Linked DNA regions of Homo sapiens. The protein of the gene in region 2 interacts with the protein of the main gene of each other region in a pairwise test. Each region holds a gene or a part of one and is shown on either strand. Other genes may lie near its edges. The genes, in order: ZHX1 and ZMYND11.

The links.
Region 1: the proteins of ZMYND11 (region 2) and ZHX1 interact in a two-hybrid assay, tested with the Homo sapiens proteins (2 studies listed by BioGRID and IntAct).

The regions. Positions count from the first base shown.
Region 1 is NC_000008.11:123,250,231-123,257,507, forward strand, and holds part of ZHX1 (zinc fingers and homeoboxes protein 1), read right to left. Parts: intron 5,942-7,277; 5' UTR 5,717-5,941; coding exon 3,095-5,716; 3' UTR 3,092-3,094; intron 91-3,091; 3' UTR 1-90. UniProt on the Homo sapiens protein: Acts as a transcriptional repressor. Increases DNMT3B-mediated repressive transcriptional activity when DNMT3B is tethered to DNA. May link molecule between DNMT3B and other co-repressor proteins.
Region 2 is NC_000010.11:130,614-138,471, reverse strand, and holds the start of ZMYND11 (zinc finger MYND domain-containing protein 11), read right to left. Parts: upstream 3,018-7,858; 5' UTR 2,913-3,017; intron 2,875-2,912; exon of another isoform or gene 2,800-2,874; intron 2,664-2,799; exon of another isoform or gene 2,055-2,663; intron 1-2,054. UniProt on the Homo sapiens protein: Chromatin reader that specifically recognizes and binds histone H3.3 trimethylated at 'Lys-36' (H3.3K36me3) and regulates RNA polymerase II elongation. Does not bind other histone H3 subtypes (H3.1 or H3.2).

The DNA.
Region 1 (7,277 bases), on a different chromosome or scaffold from region 2:
CGTTTTCAATGTCATCAAAGATTGGGCAAATTCACAGTAAATCAGACATCTTGAGTTGAAGAATTGATTCTCCTTCAACGTTTTAGGCAGCTAAAAAAGAAAAACATCATAAAAAACTGAAAATTTAAAGAAAACCATATTTTAATTTTTACTACTTTTAGAAATAAAAGTGAAAATACATCTTTTGTATTCTCTTGAGATTACCTGCCACATATGTCTTCCATAATACACTAGGCTTTGTGTGCAACTCATCTATGTATATGTTCTTCATATGCTAGATTTGCTTATAAACATTTATCATCTTTATGTAATAATTTATTTCAAACTGTATGAGCAGGGAGTATATATTTCATTGTCAGTATCTGTAATAAGCAGACTATGAAATCTAAAGACTTGTACTTTTTTCTATTTCTATACAAGGTGCAAAAGATATATATGTACCTCACTTCCTGTAATAACTATTTTGGGAAGGTTTTGGTAACTTTTTTGGTAAATTGAACAATATTTAAATGAAGAAATAACTATTTAGAGAAGGCTATGGTGAATCCTCTTATAAGTGAAAAATTATTTTACTCAGCCAAGGATAACTTGATGTTTCAGAAATTTAGACTTTTGTGTATTTAAAAAGGCATGCTTCTATGCTATCACAAAAGTATATAATATGGTTTGGCTCTGTGTCCCCATCCAAATCTTACCTTGAATTGTAATTATTAAGGGACAGTGATACCACAAAATCTTATTGTTTCAACATATGTAAATAGGCTGTTTTTACATTTGAAATTGTATAAGCCCATACATAACTTTTAATCAGGGAGTGTCGGGGGAGGGAGCCTGGTGGGAGGTGACTGAATCATGGGGGTGGACTTCCCCTCTGGCTGTTCTCATGATAGTGAGTGAGTTCTCAGGAGATCTGGTTGTTTGAAAGTTGTGTGGAACATCCCCTTTCGCTCTCTCTCCTGTTCGGTCATGGTGAGATGTGCTTGCTTCCCCTTCTTCCCCTTCGCCTTCTGCCATGACTGTAAGTTTCTTGGGGCCTCCCAGTCATGCTTCTTGTTAAGCCGGCAAAACTGTGAGTCAACTAAACCTCTTTTCTTCATAAATTACCCAGTCTCAGGTCGTTCTTTATAGCAGTGTGAAAATGGACTAATACAGTGCATGTATAGCATACATCATACAGTCTTTTGAAAACTGTAGTTTTAGGATGAATTTTCTGACCAGAATTAGTATCCATTACAGTGTTAATATATAACATAAGAATTATCTATACAAAATTAAAGGTCAAACTAAACTGTACAGAAAAATTCACATTATTTTTGGAAGACTGCAACTCCCCAAAAAAATCATTGCAGAGGTTACAACAACAACATTCACTGCAGCAACAAATTTGTTGATTTAATCTTGGCTGAGTGCACATTCTTGTGTTTAGCAATAAAAAAAATGCCTGTTAAAAATATTTTATGTATCTGGGTCAGAAGAAAGCCTGCTCTGAAGATTTCTGACATTAGGAAATGGAGGGCTGCACTTCAGGATAAAGCTGTATGAAACTGTTTAACTTCTTATAACCTAAAATGATTACATTATACCCTATAACCTGGAATGATATTTATACTGCTTATTAAAACAGGTACATTTTTAGTTTCATCTGTTATCCCTTAAAAAATATTAACAAGGAGAAAACCTGAAAAAGGATTGCCAAGCAGTAAGAATAGTGCCTGGTACATATTAAGCTCTCTATAAATAATTGTTAAAATAAATAAAACCAGAGAGAAGATGTAAGGGAATTAAGGAAAAACTGCACAGAATAACAGAGCATAAAAGTAGGGGATGGGATACTCATGCAAAAAGCCAAGGAAATAAGTAAGCATGCTCACGTATAAAATAATAATGAGGGTCTACGTCTCATTTCCTTCCTTACTGTTTGAACACAGCAGTCATTTCTGATAGCAAGATGCTATTTGGACTACTGACAGACATACACAAACATTTCATGACAACTGCATTGTTTTCAAAACAGTGTACTTTTACCCCGGAACACTCCAAAACAAAGAATAGCAAAGAATAAAACTATGTTATTAAATTCCAGAAGTATTAAGAATTCAATTCCTAACTCCAAAGCAGGTATCTGATTTGCAACTACAGTTCAACTTTAATTAATCCAATTTATAAAAGAACTAAGATTTAAGGAACATGCCAAAACCTTTCAAATTTAAGCCATATTTATTTGCATTTTTAAGACTACAGAGATATACTTTAAATCAAATACAATGTTAGTGCTGGTAGCAGGTTTGTTTTATACCAAAGAATGAAAAGATATTTTAAGCAATTGGGTTTATATCAAATCTGTTATTTGCCTTTTGATCTCTAAAACAGAAATAATTTATATCACAGTTTTCAAAGACAGATGCCGCCTAAGCAAACATGAATTTATATATGGCCTAAAACAGACCTTTGACTTTTAACAGAAAAAGATATTGAGTAATTTTATAAATTACTAAAAAGATACTGAGTAATTTCATAAATACATAAAGCATTTTAAACTCTAGTTAAAAGTCTAGTAAAGTTTTGGGAGCAATGCAATGAAGATGAAAAGATACCCATTTTCACCTAGTTTCCTAAAACTGCACAATCCTCAACCCTGTGGTAAGTCTTTCCTTTGGTGTACTTTTCCCCTTCTTTTTAGTTTTCATTTTTGAATTATTTCCTTAAATAGGCAAAAAATGAAGCTTTAGTGAAGGGGGCATTGCAATAAAATACATTTTAGTTATCTTTAGTATTTGTTTGTGAATCCCCTCAACCTGCCTGCCAGTCTCCCTTCATAGAGATTGGGTAACTTTCCTTCAAAACAAAGTAAAAAAAACCCAATTCATATGAAAAATAATAATTAAGACATTAAACTCTACATAATAATAATAAAACTACACATGATAATCATTTATCTCTTAGCTATACTAGTGGTACCTAGTCTTATTAGGGAAAAGAAAAACTACTTCAGAAAATATCAAAAATGAAGATGACTGATACAACAAGGTGACTGTTCAAAATGTATGTGGTTGATGAACATATACGCAGATTAAAAATTTTCTTAACTTACATTTCAGTCATCTGATTTAGACAGCTTCCGTTTCACATGTCGTGGAGGTTCCCAAGTGTCACTATCATCTGTTTCTTCTTCATCCTCTTCCTGGTCATCAATAACTTCATCTTCCTCCTCATTTTCCTCAAATAATTCTATACCTAATTCTGATCTTCTCTGTCTTTCTGCAAACCACTCTCTGACCTGCTCATAGCCCATATGTGATTTGTTAACAAGTTCATCAAGGTCTTGCTCATTAAGAAACTTGTGCTTCAGGTAATAATCCTTAAGTATTGCAGTTCCAGTTTTAAATTTTATGAGTGATGGTCCCCTGTCCCAGTTGTTAATTCTTTTGCTTCCTCTAGGCCGCCCACGCGGTCTTCCTCTTCCCCGTCCTTTGGGTCTCCCTCTCCCTCTTTTCCTAAGGGAAGACAGACCATTCATACTACTTGAATTGGCGCTCTGATAGTAGTAGTACCATTTCAAGTTTCCATTCTTCCAAGCATAACGGGTGTCCCCAAACCAACTAACTATGTCTGTTCTAGCAAGCCCGCTTTCTTTGGCCAACTTGTCATACTCTTCTGGTGATGGCCACTGTGTCCGGACAAATGCACTCTTAAGCATGTGCAGCTGCTCAGGTGTTTTTTTACATATCTTGCCTGTACTCCCTGACTTAGGTGCACCAGATTCATCTGCAGGAGAAGTTTCTCCAGCTTCTTCTTTGGAACTACCTGCATTACTTTCATCTATTTCCATTTTCTCTTCCTTTAAAGCTTTTGATTTCTTCTTCTCTGTAAACCAAGCATCGATTTCTCTTCTGGTAAGTTTGGTTTGTGCCCTTAACCTATTTAATTCTTCATCTGTAAGTACAGAGCTGTTGAGAAAACTTGCCTGAAGGACACGAAGCTGCTCTGCAGTTTTCTCTTTAAACTTTTGGGGAGTAAAGTCAGGAAAAGGATTCCAGGATTGCTTAGGCTGTGCAGTACCAACAGTTGGGGATTCCGTGGTTTCATCACTGGAGTCTATAATAATGGTGGTAGAGGAATCATTGTTGAGATGTAAGCACTGATTACTCTTTGAATTTCTCTGGTTGTACCTTGTGTCACTAAACCATTTTTTAATCTCTCCTTTCGTCAGGCCTGTTATTTTCATAAGTCTGATAATTTCTGAATCATGGGGAAACTGATTTTTAAGGTAGCTAACTTTTAATTCTGCCAGTTGCTCTTTTGTCTTTTTTGCCCGAATGCCAAATGAATCAGGGTTTACCAATGCAGTTTCATGTTTGACACTTTGAGAAGTTGGAACTGCTGCTGTTGCTGGCTTTGTTTCTGCAGTAGGCTGAGCAGCAGGTACCTGACTTTTCTGTATATTATTTTGACTTGGAACGCCTGCCACTGTCAAGGCTATAGGTGCTGTAACTGGCAAGGTGTTTGTTCCAGCCACTTGAGTAAGGACCAGACCAGGCTGACCAACTATTTGGCATGTCTGTAAAATAGATGGTAAACCATTACTCCCTGTGGAAATGTGTGTAGGAATAACAGTTATGGTCTGAGGTACAGTATGCACTGTTCCATTGAATTGTTTCCTTCTTGCCTCCTCTACTTCCTCGGGAGTCCAACTAACACCATGTTTTAAACGTTGGGCTGAAAACCATATCTTGATCTGTTCCTCTGTATATTTTGCTTGAGCAGAAAGAACTGTAATTTCTGACATTGTTGGGTAAGGGAACTTGTTGTAGGTGTTAAGTAAAAGGGGATTGTTATCCAATGCAGCATTGTAGGTGGGAATGCTATTAACAGGGATTAAGACTTTGGGAATCAAATTAGAATTCTGCTGAGCAGATACAGCAGTTATCACCTGTGCCAATCCAGGAAGAACTGCTGCTGGTGTCACTACCGTGCTGGCAGTACTTGGATGTATTCTGTTTACAATGGAAGTACTTGTATTAGATTCAGAAGCTGAAGAACTTGGATTTTCTACAATTTCTTCACGGTCTGGTTTGATTTCATTCTCTTTCTCTTCAGGAACGTCCTCAACTGAGTTATGATGAACTGCAATCCGTTTATTTTCCACTTTATTTTTCATCATTTTCATGATAGGAGTTTTACTGATAGATATTCCCGAAGAAGAAACTTCTGTAGATTCTGCTTGCTCTGCATTCTCCTCTTTAACAAAACTACCATCAAAAGTCAGATCATTTATTGTTTGTTCAAAGATTGTCTGGTTATTACGTTTCACCATAGTCAACTTAAAATTCTCTTCTCCTGGGTGATATTTCAGATTATGCTCAGAAAGTGCATCATACCTTTTGGTAAGAAAATTGCATTCGACACAAACATAGGATGAATTTAGCACTACATTGGGATGTTCCGAATCCACATGAAAAGTAAACATATTTAGATCTGGAGTTTGAAAAGTACAATATTTACATTCATATCCACCTTCAACTTTTTTATTTTGCTGATTGTCTGAATCCACAGATTCATGAACCTCTTCATCACTTGAGATACTCTCTGCTCTGGTGTTTTCTACAGGTGTAAGCACAGGAGGACCTTCATCCAAATCTGATATCAACTCAAGGTCTGGATCTTGTTCACTGGCAAGGACCATGCAAGGTGTTGTTGATTTTCGCCTGCTTGCCATTCTGATGTTATGAGGAAAAGCTCAGTGGTGATTAAAAAGCATCGAGGCTTAAAACTGTTCAGTGTTCTTCATTTGAAAACAATGGCTTTTGGTTCTTCAAGTCCATTTTTGTGCTCAACAAGTCTCATTAGCAGCTTTCTCATGGTGCAATCAAGTAAAGAGCTTATTGTTGGCAGATAAAATACTGCTGAATTTCTGAAATTTTTGAAGCACAACTCCAATCACCTACATTAAAATAAATTTTAAAATGTTTTAAAATGAGTAACTATGATCTTTTAAACAAATTATAGTTATAGTTCACTTATATGAAGTGGCTGGATAGCTCAGTTACAAAGATCTAGAATAAGATAAGAATCAGAAAAAAATGTCCTCTAAAGATCAAAATAAATCTCTCCAGGCCAACTCATTGAATGTTAAGTACTTTACCTTGGGTCAGACACAAGCTTATTCATTTAAATTTTTTAGCCAGCTATATATTAGAAGACAAGGGGGAAAGGGCCTGCTTTGGCAAGCACACTATTATTAATGTGAAATGGCAATGTTAACAAGGAGGAACTTTAACACTATAAAAAGCATTCACAGATACTAAAATATTATGGCCATTAAGTGTGTAAGAAATTCAGCCTGGCCAACATGGTGAAACTCCGTCTCTACTAAAAACACAAAAATTAGCCAGGCGTGGTGGCAGGTGCCTGTAGTCCCAGCTTCTCCAGAGGCTGAGGTAGGAGAATCGCTTGAACCCAGGAGGCAGAGATTGCTGTAAGCCAAGATCATGCCACTACATTCCAACCTGGGCAACAGAGTGAGACTCCATCTCAAAAAAAAAAAAAAGACAAGAAATTTAATCCATTAGTTCATTAGTTATGTCCTCTTCTTCCTACTGGTCTATCTCATCAGCCAAAAGCATGCTTCAAGTATGGCAAAAATAGCAAAGATGGAGGATGAATGATCAAAGTTTCAGAAACATTATTATTATTATTATTATTTTTTGAGACAGAGTCTCACTCTGCCACCCAGGCTGGAGTGCAGTGGCGCAATCTTGGCTCACTGTGACCTCTACCTCCTGGGTTCAAATGATTCTCTTACCTTAGCCTCCTGAGTAGCTGGGATTACAGGCGCTTGCCACCACGCCTGGCTAATTTTTGTAGTTTTAGTAGAGATGGGGTTTCACCACGTTGGCCAGGCTGGACTCGAACTCCTGACCTCAGGTGATCTGTCCGCTTTGGCCTCCAAAAGTGCTGGGATTACAGGCATGAGCCACCGTGCCTGGCCTACCAGAAACATTATTCTTAGCACTTGCCACAATGCTACCAAAAGTTATAAAGCAGATCTAATCACATCAGTCTCCTGACACAGGTTCCTAATGTTGAAGGAATAAAGTTCAAACTCCTTGTGGGACATATAATCCCTTTCACAACCTAGTCTAACCTCACTTTCCTTCCTCCTGTTTCCTTATGCTTTAGGTATACCAGAAATGGCTGCCATTCCACAGACATTCAATGCACTTTCAGACCCTTACTCAGGCCCTTCCTTAGGTTAGGACACTTGATGTGTTGATCTG
Region 2 (7,858 bases):
ATAAACATATGTCATTCATTGAAACATGCATGACATCCATTCAAAACGCCAACAGGGCCGGGTGCGGTGGCTCACATCTGTAATCTCAGCACTTTGGGAGGCCAAGGCAGGTGGATCATTTGAGGCCAGGAGTCTGAGACCTGGCCAACATGGCAAACCACCCCCACCCCGGCCCCCTACTAAAAATACAAAAAATTATCCAGGTGTGGTGGCACATGCCTGTAGTACGAGCTACCCGGGAGGCTGAGGCATGAGAATCGCTTAAGCCTGGGAGGCAGGGGTTGCAGTAAGCCGAGATCACACCACTGCACTCCAGCCTGAGCGACAGAGCAAGACTCCATCTCAAAAAAAAAAAAAAAAACGCCAACAGAATGGTATTCAGTATGAATGAAAGAACTAAATTTTAACATTTTAATTGATTTCTTTTTGTGAAGCTGGAAGCTCGTACATGTACATTTATTTAAACACCTCACAAATGGTAATTGCAAAAATAAATTGTCCAATTTAGAGACTGTAAAAGGAAGAGTTGGTTTTCATATGAGCAATCTCTATGGGGGAAAAGCACCATGTGAAATACAGAAATCCTTTAAGTAACAGAGTCAAGCAAGACAAATATTTTGATTCTGTCATAATCACATCCCATATCCTCTGATCTCTGATTCTCTAGCCTGGTCATCTTATAAAGATGAGTCAACCAAAAATAACAACTATAATGTAACCTGTGCCAGTTAGTCAAAGACAAGGCAAATTAAATGCCTCTACAGACATTCATATTTTTTCTCCTGCTTGTAAAAAGACATTCAGAAAAACTACAAAGATGACCCTGCCTACCAGAAAGCACTCTAACTTTTCAACTTTCAAAGTACAACCAACACTATCTCCCTGATAACATCCAACCATTAATTAAAATCAACCTCAAAAATCTGAAAACGTTGTGCACACCATAATTACTAAGCTAAAATTACTATATTTCTCAGTTTACAGGAAAACAAGTAAACATTTACTTTCTGCTTTTGGACAAACAGATTAAATTATTTTTAAGAATGTTCTTGCCTCCATATGACTCAGCTTACTGTGGGATGCAGAACACCTAAGTGAGGAGGACCAAGGGCTCTAGACCTCCCTAAAAACCCAACCTGCACCACTCCCTCCTACCAGCAGGGTCCTGAATGGGCCACCTGGGTATCTCCTCCAGGCTCACATTCTTGACACCAGATACCATGTACACACTGTATATGACCCAGGGTACTAGATACCCTGAATATGACAGTGGGTACTGTGTACACAGTACATATGACACTCGGTACTAGGTACACACTGCATCTGACACTGAGTACAGCTTATGTGACAAGGATAGTGCATGCATGGTGCATATGACATTGGGTACCATATATGCATGGCATATGACATTGGGTACTACCTACACACCATATATAACACTATGTAATGTATACATACTGTACATGCCACCAGATATATATACAAAACATAGATAACACCAGGTAGTGTATATACACTGTATATGACACCAGATACTATATACCTAACGTATATGACATTGAATACTGCATACACACCGCATATGGCAGCACGGTACCGTGCACATACTGCACAAAATACCGGGAACCGCGTAAGGGCTGTATATGACACTGGGTGCTGCATACACAGTGTGAAAGGATACTATGTACACACCATATATGACCCCAAGTACTGTGTGCACACAGTATATGACACCTGGTACTATACACACCGCATATATGACACCAGGTACTACATACACACTGTATGTGACAACAGGTAAGGTAAATATATTCAATACTATCCAGATACTACATACACTCGTATATAACATGGAGTACCACACGCACAGCTCATATGGCAGCAGGGTACCAGGCACCTACTGCACACAATACCGGGGGCTGAGTGCACAGCCTAAGCGAGGAAGATACATGTACACACCGTGTATGATAGCCGGTACGACACCGGGTACTTCGAGCACACTGCATATGACACAGAGTACACACCATATATAATCCCCGGTACTGCGTACCCACCGCATAGGACACCGCACTGCACAACGAGCACTGGTACACACGAATAAAACAGGTACGGCGGTCACTCTGCAAAAGACACCGGGCACGGCGCACACATCGCCAGCTCCTCCTCCTCCCGGCTCGGGAGAAAAGCGCGAGGAGAGACTGCAAGTGAAAGTCCGGGTCCCGGCGCCCCCCCTCGTCCCAGCCGCGTCCTCAGCAGCTTCTCCCCGGAGCTCTGGGTGGGAGGAGGGCGGCGGACCCCACAGGACTGTCCCGGAGGTCCGCGAGGACCTGTTGAGGCGGCGGCCTCGCTGCCGGGGTCGCTCACAGCCCCGGGGGACCGACGAATCTCCGCCCCGGGCCTCGGGGCCAGCCCTGCCCGCCGCTCCCGGGCTAGCACACGACGTGCCGCGCCGACAAACGCTTCCTCTCCGCCCGCCACACGCCCGGAGCCGCGTTCCCCGCCGGCCCGGACTGCGCACGGGCCCAGGAGGCCTGACCGAAAGCGGGGCACAGGGCCCGGCGGGCGGTGCTCACGCGACTCCGCGGCTTCCCGGCCCGAGCAGGCCCCGCGCGGTCCTCCGGGGCCTCATCCCGGGGCCTCTTCCGCGGCCGCCCAAGGCGAGTGGGCGCGGGCCGGCAGCCTCCGCAGGCCCCGCCGCCGCCCTCGCAGGCCCCGCCGGCCCGGCCCGCCCCGCCATCCACAAAGCTCCCCGGCAGCTCGGAGCTCTTCGCGAGCGGGCGAGCGACCGTCAGCACCCACTGGTGCCGCCGCCGCCCCAGAGGCCGCGGCCAGGCAGGCTCCACCGCGCGGGCCGCGCCATCTCCACGGACGCCCCCGCCCGCCCCGCCGCCCCGCCGCCGAGCTTTCCCCACCATTATGCTCCGGCTCCTCCACCGCCGCCGCCGCCGCGCCCGGCCCTCCCCTCCGGTGCCGCCTCCTTCCCGCCGCCCGGCGCCTCTCGGGCCTGAGCCGGCGACGGGCGCGGGGGGCGGGGGGGACGCTCAGGCCGCCTCCTCCTCCTCCCTGCCGGCCTCCTCCCTCCTCCCCGGCTCCCCCCCGCCCGGACCCCGCCGCCGGCTCCGCGCGAAGGGCTCCGGGCTCGAGGGGCGCCATGTTTGTAATACTCCACCTCAGAGAACGCCGCGGTCGCGCCTGAGCGAGGGAGGCTAGGCGGCCGGGTCGCCGCGTGCGGGGTGAGGGCCGGGAGGGCACCGCCGCCCGCACTTACTCGCGTCTTCCCCTGGCGCCGCGGGCCTGCGGGGCCGGAGCGGGCGGCGGGAAGTTGGGCGCCGCCGCCCGGGAAAGTTGGGTCCCCGCGAAGCCGCGGCAGCCGCTCACATGGCGATGCGCGCGGGGCGGCCGCTCGGCCCCACCGGCCCCTCGGCCCGCCCGCCCTCGGAGTTTATTGTGTCGGGTCGAGGCGCCCCGCGGCCGGGCCGCGCACTGGGGGCTCTAGCGGCTGGCGCCGGACTTGCGCGCGGCCGGCCCGGCTCGCGGCCGCCTCCCGCCCGGGGCCGGAGCCGTGCACGCGGCTCCTACCTTCCCCACGTCCTGTCTTCGGCGCCTCTATCCGAAATTTGTTGGAGCATATTCCTCTGTCTCCACACATGCACTCCGTATCCACACACACGTGAAGGCTACGTACGTGCAGGCGCGCTGGAGCCGGGAGCGGGCGCCGAGGCCGGGGCGCGAGGGGGCATTGTCAGGCGCCGCCGCAGCTCAGCCCCGGGTGGACCCGGTGCCTGCCCCTGGCTCGCGGGGTCCGGAACAGCGAAGTCTGAGAAGTACGAGTGCTTCTCTTAACAACATTGTTTAGGTAGTCTGAACAGCCCTTTACTCCTGTCATCAAAAAGAGCGGTAGGGATACGCTAAGTTCCCCGTTTCATCTCTGCGCAAACAGGACCGCGAAAAGAACAGGACCACCCATCAGCAGCCCTGCAAGAACACTGCAGATTTGCGCGAGAAGTAGGTTATCTTCTATGGAGAGGAATTCTAGACCTAATCAGAGACGATCCCTTAAGACTCTGGTTTAAGAAAGGTTCGGAGATAAGCATACTTTGATAGCGTTCACCTGTTTTCCCTGAGGACCTTTCGCCACTGGGAGTCGGGGAACACCTGTCAGTCAGAGTCCTCTGCTCTGAAATTCGGTGAGTACAGGACAGCAAGGTGTTTTCAGGGAGACCGCATTCTCATAACTTTTACTACAGTATAGTGTTATAATTGTTCTGGTTTATTATTAGTGTTGTTAATCTCTCATTGTGCCTGACTTCTAAATTAAACTTTATTATAGGCAGGTGTGTATAGGAGAAAACGTAGTGTAAGTAAGGTTCAGCACTACCCCGGGTTTCAGGTATCTATTGGCCGTCTTGGCACGTGTCCCCACCTGAAAAGTCATTAGGAAGAGACGGTTGTAGGAATTTGGGGATTCTGATAAAATATATCAATCTGCTTCTACAGCTGGTTTCTAAGACTGTTAGAATTTAGAAATGGGTGGTACTTGAATAGGTCTGTGATATACACTAGTCAAATAAACACAATCTTTCATGCTATTCACAGCCCTCAATCTGATACATCCCAGAGAGTTTTTGATTATCTCAAAGAACATCACAGAATAATTGTAATTCATTTTAAGAGTAAATATATATCGCTAAAAATTTAGTAGAGGGGTTAAAACGTGTCAGAAGAAAAGCAAGCCATGCCTGGTTTGAATGTTGGGCCAGGAATTCCAACAATGAAGAGCTTTCAGTGAGTCACCTTTTTAAACAGTCTGTTACTTCATCTGTAAAATAGAGGACTGCATGGTTCTGTGTATTTTAGAGAAGGCACTCGAGTAAGACAACATCGTATCAATAAAAGGAAGCTTACCTTTTAGGAAAGAAGTGGCAGCATAACTCCACATTTTTTTCCCAGTTATACTTTGTAGGGATCATTTAAAATTTTATACGCAGATACCATCTCTCATTCAACCTAATGTAAGTTAGATAACTTACCCTGATTTTCCTGTTGGTTTTGCCTAGAATTTAACCCTTGGCTCTATTTTCCAAGTAAGGTGGTATTTATCCACTAAGATGAATACGAATATCCCTCCCCACATAAAACGCAAAAGCCATGGATAATGTACAATAGAAGAAATAAAACTATTAATAAATACTGACAGCTATTCTAATTCACTAGTAATGACACATTCAAACAACGTAACATTGCTTTTCTTCAAAGGACAGAATTCTTTTCCAGTGATAATGCTACTGATGGTTAGCGAAATGAACGCTTATATACACTGCTGGCAGAAAATTGGGTTGATGTCAACTCTCTTGAAATGCATACCAAGAGGCCATTAAAACAGTTTGATTTATCTCATTTGCCCCTCAGCTGAATGAATGTGTGTGTGTGGGTCTGGGGACCAAAGGTTTGAGGTTTGGAGGAAGCCCAGAAGACCAGTAACTAATTGCTGTGCTAGTATCTTACATGACAAAGCTATACTGTTTATACAATTGAATACAGACAGATTTTTACTTCTTGATTCTCCTTTTTGCATTGGTGAGTTTCAAAGCGGGTGCCACTGAGCCCTGGGGCTTCTCAGAGCTGTCGGGGAGCTGTCTCTGCAGGACCAAGACGTGGGAATACTCCTCCCGCCCCCAATCAGACAGCACTGCTCTATTTTCTAGAATGAGTGTCCAGATCAGATTTCATTACCTGGCTATTGGGACAGTATAGTGTGTGTAAGGTAATAATTGCTCAAACTCATTTGACATGAGTTAGGGTTTAGTCTCATTATTTATTTTGTTAAATATTATCAGGAAATACTGTGGAAGAAAATGTTAACTGTAACTGTAATAAAGTGTGGACTGCTGCAGATGGCTGTGAGTGTAAACGTCACAGCACCTTCATTGGCCCATGGCCTCCAGAGCCGCTTCCTGCTGCGGGGCAGCCCTCAAAAATGTGTGTCTAGTGAGTGTCATCTCTTACACATGCTACAGCCCCCCATCCTCAGACCCCCAAGAAAGCAAGAGGATAAGAAACATTCAGTAAGAGACAGATGCTGAAGTGAGCAGTCATGATCTAGCCACTCCACAAGGTTAGTTCGTACTGCAAAGGGAGACTTTCTCAGAGACCAATAAAATATATATATATAAAATATATATATTATATTACATATTTTTTTTGAGCAGCAGCAAGATTTATTGTGAAGAGCGAAAGAACAAAGCTTCCACAGCGTGGAAGGGGACCCGAACGGGTTGCCCCAATGAAATATTTTCTAAGACTATACAATGTTCTTTGATTTCATTCCATGCCTTTCTGACTTCTGATAACAGTTTTCCGTAGTCTTTAGTATTAGATATTGATGTTTTGAATATGGTTGTGGTTTCTCCTTATCTTCTCCTCTATTAGATTAACATTCTGGCATATAAGTTACTATATAACAAGTTTATTAATGTTGCTTAAGGATTTCCAGTCACCTGTGGATGCTTTTAAAAATCATGTTTTTGAAACTAGAAAGCTGTGGTCCGAACTCTGTAACAGCAGTTACCATTCATTGATGCTGCCACCCTCTGTGGCTCAGACTGAAACTGCTACTATCCATATTTTAATTTTAAAAAACTTTCAGCCAGGAATAGTGGCTCACATCTATAACCCCAACACTTTGGGAGGCCAAGGCGGGAGGTACACTTGGGGCCAGGAGTTCGAGAACAGCCTGGGCAACATAACGAGGACGCATCTCTACAAAATTAAAAAAAAAAAATAGCCAGATGTGGTGGCTCACTCCTGTAGTCGCAGCTACTCGAGAAGCTGAGGGAGGAGGATGGCTTGAGCACAAGAGGTCAGGGCTGCAGTGAGCTATGATTGCATCCCTGCACTCCAGCCTGGACAACAGAGCAAGACGTTCTCCAGGAGAAACTGTCAGTATAAGAAATCCATTTCCATTGAAAGCCATGATTCTTCCAATACTTAAGTGGCAGCTTTTTACTACACAGCAACCGAGGAGCTGAGCTGACAGTGCTTGCCAGGCCTAGTTCCAGTGCCTGTGGGCCTTGAAACCCAGGCTCCGGGCATCTCTTCAGGGCTCCATAGCTGTGGCTTCTGAAATTCAGTTCCCCACTTCTGTCCATGAATGTACAGTATTTGTTAGAAGTAGGTCCTCCCATACTCAGGTTAATATGCTTCAAAACATTTAAGGAAAAGTAGGATCCTGTCTTTTCAAGGGCAACTCATCACACAAGATGAAAAACAGATGTTTGTGTATGTGTGTGCCTTCTTTCCTTCAAAATTGTGATTCTAACCTTTTCCCTGTCTCCCTGGTCCCTGTTTTCCTTTTTTTGAGATAGGGCTCACTCTGTCACCCAGGCTGGAGTGCAGTGGCACCATCTTGGCTCACTGTAACATCCACTCCTGGGCTCAAGCGATCCTCCCACCTCAGCCTCCCGAGCAGCTGGGACCACAGGTGCATGCCACCGTGCCCAGCTAATTTTGTATTTTTGGTAGAGATGGGGTTTCGCCATGTTGCTTACGCTGGTCTCGAACTCCTGAGCTCAAGTGATCTGCCCATCTTGGCTTCCCCAGTGCTGGAATTACAGGCGCGAGCCACCGTGCCCGGCCCCGACTCTCTTCTATAGCATGATGTAGAAGAATATGCACTAGTGCACCTGAGTCCAAATTCCAACTCACTGTGAGACATTCAAGTGATTTCACCTTTTTGAACCTTGGTTTCCCTGTTTTTCAGGAGTATGATTTTCTAACATCAGATTGCTTGGATTAGAGTCCTAACTCCACCATTCTCTAGCTATTGACCTTGGACAAGTTATTTACCAATTTATGTCTC